Homo sapiens: one gene and its partner. The protein of the gene in region 1 purifies or fractionates together with the protein of each later gene. This does not show direct contact. Each region holds a gene or a part of one and is shown on either strand. Other genes may lie near its edges.

Region 1 (3,500 bases):
TCTCAAGCACATATTTTCAACAGTCCAGAAAACTGGGCACAGCGGATTAGCACAGCCACAGCCTGTCCTGTGAACATTTCTCCACAAGGGGGCACTATGGTCACAAAAAAACACATAAAAAGGGTATAAAAGGAGAGAAATAAGGGTTCCACTTAGGAAATTAAGTTATTATTAATTAAAGAAATACTTCCAGAGCCCCTTCTATTCCAAAAAAAAAACTACTGGAGATTGAGTCATAAGCACTGATGAGCCCAGGAAAGTCTTCCTACAGCACCTGGAGGTGACCAGTTCAAACAGGACAAGCCTGGTATGGGAGAGGCTCAGAGCACACGGTAGCTTCAGAGAAGGGAGGGAGCGCTTTGAGGTCCAGCAATCAGAGCAGGCTTCCCAGGGGAGGGGGCTTTTAATCCAGGCTTTTAGAGAATGTCAAGAGTTTTAAGTAGGGAAGGGAGTAAGATTCTCAGTGACCAGGAGACACCAGTTTGCAGTTTGGAGCTTTCGTTCGTGATATGGTTTGGCTGTGTCTCCACCCAAATCTCATCTTGAATTGTAGCTCCCATAATCCCCATGTGTCATGGGAGGGACCCAGTTGGAGGTAATTGAATCATGGGGGCGGGTCTTTCCCATGCTTTTTTTGTGATAGTGAATAAATCTCATGAGATCTGATGGTTTTATAAAGGGCAGTTCCCCTGCACGCACTCTCTTGCCTGCCACCATGTAAGACGTGCCTTTGCTTCTCCTTCACCTTCTGCCATGATTGTGAGGGCTCCACAGCCATGTGGAACTGTGAGTCCATTAAGCCTCTTTTTCTTTATAAATTACCCAGTCTCGGGTATTTCTTCATAGCACTATGAAAATAAACTAATACAGTTGGTAATAAAGGCTGGAAAAGCAGACTGTGGCAAGGTTACAGAGGAATGTAATGATTGAGTGGGAAGTTTGGACCTTTGTGACATGGAGAGCCACTAAAGGCTTCTGAGCAAGTCAGCAACACTGATGATTTGTTACAAACTTTTAGAGCGGGAGAGATCACGCTGATCAGCTCTAGGAGGCTTGGCTGTGGCAACATTCAGGAGGGAGCACTCAGTGGTCCAAACTTAAAGTAACAAACGTAGGATCTGGCTGGTGGCTAAGGATAGAAAGGGGAGCCGACATGGCTGGGGCTGGGAGGAACACAGCAGAGGGAGGAGCCAGGGCCGACTGTCACGCTCTGAGCCTGGGTGAAAGAAAAAAACATGCTGCCCTGGATAGAAACTGTGAAGTCAACAGAAGGAGTTTGGGGGCCAGGCGCAGTGGCTCATGCCTGTTATCCCAGCACTTTGGGAGGCCAAGGCGGGTGGATCACCTGAGGTTAGGAGTTCGAGACCAGCCTGGCCAACATGGCAAAACCCTGTCTATACTAAAAATACAAAAACTAGCCAGGCATGGTGGCGTCTGCCTGTAATCCCAGCTACTCAAGAGGCTGAGGCAGGAGAATCGCTTGAATCCGGGAGGCGGAGGTTGCAGTGAGCTGAGATCATGCCAGCGCACTCTGGCCTAGGTGACAGAGCAAGACTCTGTTTCAAAAAAGAAAGAAAGAATGAGTTTAGGGAGGTGGGGTGAGGGTGTAGGGGCTGGGGTGGGAGCACATAAGTCTGAGTTTCTCTGTCAACCAACAAAGAGTTGGAACTGTGGTGCAGCACTCCAGAGGGAGTCCTGGGTGGACATTTGAGGGACCTATGTCAGGTGACAGAGGGCGATGCTGCAGGAGACAGTGTGATCACCAAGGAGGGGAGAGAAAAGGGTCAAGGCCAGAACTTTTGGAAGTAAGGGATGAGGACAAACAGCAGAGAAGCAAGGGCAGTACAGCTAAAGGAGAAACGTTTCAGTAAGTAGTGTCCATGTGTCCTCAGAGCGGGGTGGTGGTGACTGAGAAACGGTCACTGACTGTGGCAGGTAGGGTGGTTGTCTCTACTGTGGCTTCAGGGAGAAGTGAGGTGTAAGAAATGTGTGTGGGGAGTGCCGATGATGAAGGGAGGCAGCGAAAAGCCACAGTTGCTGAGAAGGTAGCTTCCGAGATGAGGAGTGGGTCTGCTTTCCAGAAACTTCCATGCAGGTCCTCGGCCTTCCTCCATGCTAGCCTGCTCTCCCAGCTGCACCCTGGCCCCGCCTGCGCTAATCCTTCTCCAGGCTCCTGGCAGAGGCAAATGTGTATCATGCAAATCGGATTCAGTCACTCCCTGGCCAAAAATTCTTCCCAGACTCCCCAAAACCTGACACCAAGTACCTGTGCTCTCAGCTCCCCTCCTCTCCTGAGCCCCAGCACTGCAAGATGGCCATTCTCTCATACCTTCATAGCCCTGTGTATGTACCCCTCCCTCAGTGCCCCCCTTTCTCCTGGACAATACTTTGTCCAGGTCATTCATTTAACAGATAATTAGTGCACACCTTCTATGTACCAGGGGCTCTCCTAGGGGCTGGAGATACAGCAGCCCCTGTCCTCAAGGAGCTTGCATAGGGGAAACAGACAATACACTGATACCTGAGTACACACGGCTTGTTAGGTGGGGTGTGTGCTGTGGGGGGGGCTGGGTGAGCGGGGTCAGTGAAGCCCGCAGCAGGGGACTGAAAGAGGCACTGGAGTGAGCCATGAGGCCTGTGAGGGAAGATATGCCAGGCAGAGGACACAGCTGGGGCCCAGAAAAAAGGCCAGTATGGCTGGGGCAGAGTAAGAGAGCAGAGGGGAGTGAGAGGAGAAGGGGCTGGGAGCTGGCGGGGTGCAGGTCATGTTGGGCCTTCCAGGCAATCCATAAGGATCCCATCTTTTACTTGAAGAAAGGTGGAGAACCATGAGAGGGCTTTGAGCAGACAAATCACATGATGTGACTTACATCAACAGGGTTACCTTGATGGATGTGCTGAGAACAGCCCATGGATGGTGCAGGGCTGGGTCAAGGGTGGGGCAAGGAGGCCAGTGAAGCCAGGCTGCTGCAGCACCAGTGGTGACTGCATCCGGGCAGAGAGGGGAGTGGGGGGGAAGGCCCAGCCACCAAGATCTGTCAACTGTAGGAACCTAGGATGTGAGAGAAAGAGAAGAACAAGGGGTGGTTCGCAGTTTGGGGCCTGAGCCAGCGGAAGTCAGAGCTGTTGTGTGCTGAGATGGGCGAGACAGCACAGCAGGCTTTGGGGTGGATACCTGACCCTCAATTTCAGACATCCTGACGTTGGATTAGACATCCACATGGAGATATGGAGAAGCAGGGGAAAGCTCTGGCAGAAGGATATAGTTAGGGGTCCTCAGGGCAGAGAAGGTCTTAAAAACAGATGATTAAATAAAAAAAAAAAAGGAAAGAAAGAACAGATCAGAAAAGTGAGTGCAGACAAATGAGAAAGGGTTTGAGACCAGAGCCCTGGGTGCCCCATGCTTCAGCTCACCCCACAATGCAGGTGTTAGTCACGTCCCCACGTCTGGCTGCTCGCCACCCTCCTGGCCATATCTCACTGTGCTGTGACTTTTCACT
Region 2 (4,053 bases), on another chromosome or scaffold:
TAAACTTAATGCTGGGCAGGAAAGAAGTATTCAAGGCCAGGTAAAATGAAGAAATATAACCAAATAAATGAAATTTTAAAATTAGTAGAATGAGACAGAAATACTTTTTAAAGTTTTTAATTTCTGATGAATATCAGTATATAAAACTAACAATTATATGGCCGTTAATTGACTAAAAACAGTACTTTAGATTTCAGCTAGTGAAACAGCCATATATGATCTTCTAATTCCATTTTTATGTCTCAAGAATGACTTGTTTAAATAATTTTTTTTGAATTGTTACATTTTCATCTTGAAAGAGCTTCACAAAACTTACATGAGAATCTGGATTGTCATAAGAGGTCTGAGTTTTTAATGGTATGTTCGTATTTCTGTTATGTACATCGATGTCAAACATTCATTTCCTGAGCTGTTCTCCAGAACACAATTTGACTTGTAATGAACACTCAATAAATGGTTGCTTGGATAATCAAATCAACACCTTAGTTTCATCAATTTTCATTTCATATAAAAGTGACTGATCTTCCATACTCACCAATGAAACAGAGAGAGATGAGGGAGGGATAGCAGTGGAGACTAAGAGGATGACAAGCAGACCTCATTTTGCAGTGGATATCCTACACTCTCCACTTCTGAATGCTTGGAAACACTTGCCATACTCAAAAAACATTGCTATTTCCTAGGCAGAAAATGGGAGTTAAAGAAAATCCATATTTCTATATTACAATAACTTACACTATAATACATGGACGACATACATTTCTAAGCTCTTCAGTTCATAGAAAATGTAGATACATTTAGGTGAGCAAGATGCAGGAGAAGGGTTAATAATCAGGCTGAGTGTGATTGTGAGATTCAGTCTAATACAAGTCTTGGGTAATTGTATCAGTTGACATTTCTGTTCAAATGCAAGGTGGGAGAGTTTTGCAGGAGCTACTGAAACTTCCTGCCTGATGTTAGGAGAGATGTTGGTCCATGTGATTAGGCCAGATGTGTTTGCTTAATTGTGGCTTAGAAAAGTTAGGTTTCTGACCTCTCACAGAGACGGGGAGATAGGGACGTTAAATTTTATAACATTTCTATTTAATATATATTTAATAATACATAATAAAGTTTTTAAAATGTCAATTTTGTCCTTTTTCTAGTTTGCATTATTTTGTTTTCACCGCACCATTGTTTTTAGTACATATGTTTTGTGTATTTAAAAAACTGTGTTGAGGCGCCCTGGCTCGCCCTGCGCCAGAGGCTCGCGCACTCAGCAGGTTGGGCTGCGGCGGCGGCGGCTGGGGAAGCCGAAGCGCCGCGCGTGAGAGATCCCGGATACATCTGCGGTTTGGGCTCCGCCACCCTCCGTCTCTCTCCCGCAGGTCTCTGAGCCGGGTGCGGAAGGAGGGAACGGCCCTAGCCTTGGGAAGCCAAAGCACACCCCTGGCTCCTGCCGACACCGCCCTCCTTCCCTTCCCAGCCGCGGGCCTCGCTCCGTGCTCGGCTACTCTGCCGGGAGGCGGCGGCGGCTGCCAGTCTGTGGCGAGCCCTGCTGCCCTCCAGCCGGGCTCCTCCAGCCGGGCTCCTCCACCGGCCCTTGCAGGGGCGCAGAGAGCTCGGCGCCCGCCCTTCCGCTCGCCTTTTTCGTCAGCCGGCTGGAGGAGCATCGGTCCGGGAGGTCTCTGGGCTGAGGCGGCGACAGCTCCTCTAGTTCCACCATGTCCGCGGGCGGAGACTTCGGGAATCCGCTGAGGAAATTCAAGCTGGTGTTCCTGGGGGAGCAAAGCGTTGCAAAGACATCTTTGATCACCAGATTCAGGTATGACAGTTTTGACAACACCTATCAGGCAATAATTGGCATTGACTTTTTATCAAAAACTATGTACTTGGAGGATGGAACAATCGGGCTTCGGCTGTGGGATACGGCGGGTCAGGAACGTCTCCGTAGCCTCATTCCCAGGTACATCCGTGATTCTGCTGCAGCTGTAGTAGTTTACGATATCACAAATGTTAACTCATTCCAGCAAACTACAAAGTGGATTGATGATGTCAGAACAGAAAGAGGAAGTGATGTTATCATCACGCTAGTAGGAAATAGAACAGATCTTGCTGACAAGAGGCAAGTGTCAGTTGAGGAGGGAGAGAGGAAAGCCAAAGGGCTGAATGTTACGTTTATTGAAACTAGGGCAAAAGCTGGATACAATGTAAAGCAGCTCTTTCGACGTGTAGCAGCAGCTTTGCCGGGAATGGAAAGCACACAGGACGGAAGCAGAGAAGACATGAGTGACATAAAACTGGAAAAGCCTCAGGAGCAAACAGTCAGCGAAGGGGGTTGTTCCTGCTACTCTCCCATGTCATCTTCAACCCTTCCTCAGAAGCCCCCTTACTCTTTCATTGACTGCAGTGTGAATATTGGCTTGAACCTTTTCCCTTCATTAATAACGTTTTGCAATTCATCATTGCTGCCTGTCTCGTGGAGGTGATCTATTAGCTTCACAAGCACAAAAAAAGTCAGCGTCTTCATTATTTATATTTTACAAAAAGCCAAATTATTTCAGCATATTCCGGTGATAACTTTAAAAATTAGATACATTTTCTTAACATTTTTTTCTTTTTTAATGTTATGATAATGTACTTCAAAATGATGGAAATCTCAACAGTATGAGTATGGCTTGGTTAACGAGCAGTATGTTCACAGCCTGCTTTATCTCTCCTTGCTCTTCTCACCTCTCCCTTACCCCGTTCCCTATTTCCGTGTTCTTACCTAGCCTCCCCCCACTTCCTCAAAACAAACAAGAGATGGCAAAGCAGCAGTCCGACCAAGCCCACTGGAATTATCCTTTAATTTTACAGATACCACTTGCTGTAGGCTGTGGACCAAGATGTCCAGAATTATTCTTGAGCACTGATGTAAATTACTTAGATCTTCTTTGAGGTCAGAATTCAGCGATCACGGTAGGCAGTGCTTGAATGAGAAAAGCCTCCTGGTGCATCTTCAAAATGAGTCCTAAAGAACATACTGAGTACTTATAAGTAGCAGAACATAAAATGTATTTCTGACTAACACAAATGGTCCTTTCACATGTGCTTTATTAGACTCTGGGAGAGAAAAGTAACCAAGTGCTTCAGAACAGGTTTTTAGTATTTACTTCTTCATGGTAAGATAATGAAGTTCTAATGAACTATTTCTCCCAAGGTTTTAAAATTGTCAAGAGTTATTCTGTTTGTTTAAAAAGTAAGAAACCTCTGTAAGCAATAGATTTTGCTTGGGTTTTCTTTCTTAAAAAAATAATACTATGCAGGCAAGACACCATAAAAGTTTAATTCCTTACAGAAGAACCAGTGGAAGAATTTAAATTTGGCACTACGATCAAAACTACTGAATTAGCAGAAATAACGATATCTAAAGCTTACCAGCAAAAGAACCCTCAGCAGAATAGCAAAAACTTTGCTCAGGACATTTGAGGTCAAATTGAAGACGGAAGACGGAAGACGGAAACCGGAAACCGTTTTCTTGTAAGCCCCTAGAGGCAGATCAGGTAAAGCATACATAGTAGAGGGAAAGGAGAGAATGGAAATAAAACTGAATATTATGCAGATTTATGCCTTATTTTTTAGCATTTTTTAAGGTTGGGTCTTTCAGGCTGGTTTTGGTTTGTATTAGATCTGTATAGTTTAACTAGTGATTTAGTTTTATATTTAAGCTACGATTAATATTTTTTCTTTGGCGATATTTCTTTGCTTTTTTTTTTTTTAACAACTTTCCATTTTTAGATGTTTCGTTGAATCTATTTAGAGCTTCACCATGGCAATATGTATTTCCCTTAAAACACTGCAAACAAATATACTAGGAGTGTGCCCTTTTAATCTTTACTAGTTATTGTGAGATTGCTGTGTAAGCTAATAAACACATTTGTAAATACATTGTTTGCAGGAAGAAAACTTCGAGTTACAGGTCAGGAAAAGCCTGCTGAATTTATGTTGTAAACGTTACTTAACACAGTATAAAGATGAAAAGACAACAAAAGTATCTTCATACTTCCTCATCCCCTCATTGCAACAAAACCT

What was found. The genes of interacting proteins can lie anywhere in the genome.
Region 2: the proteins of MTARC1 (region 1) and RAB6C fractionate together in Homo sapiens (co-fractionation; one large-scale study listed by BioGRID). This does not show direct contact.

The regions. Positions count from the first base shown.
Region 1 is NC_000001.11:220,800,413-220,803,912, reverse strand, and holds part of MTARC1 (mitochondrial amidoxime-reducing component 1 precursor), read right to left. Parts: intron 1-3,500. UniProt on the Homo sapiens protein: Catalyzes the reduction of N-oxygenated molecules, acting as a counterpart of cytochrome P450 and flavin-containing monooxygenases in metabolic cycles.
Region 2 is NC_000002.12:129,978,413-129,982,465, forward strand, and holds the start of RAB6C (ras-related protein Rab-6C), read left to right. Parts: upstream 1-1,253; 5' UTR 1,254-1,703; coding exon 1,704-2,468; 3' UTR 2,469-4,053.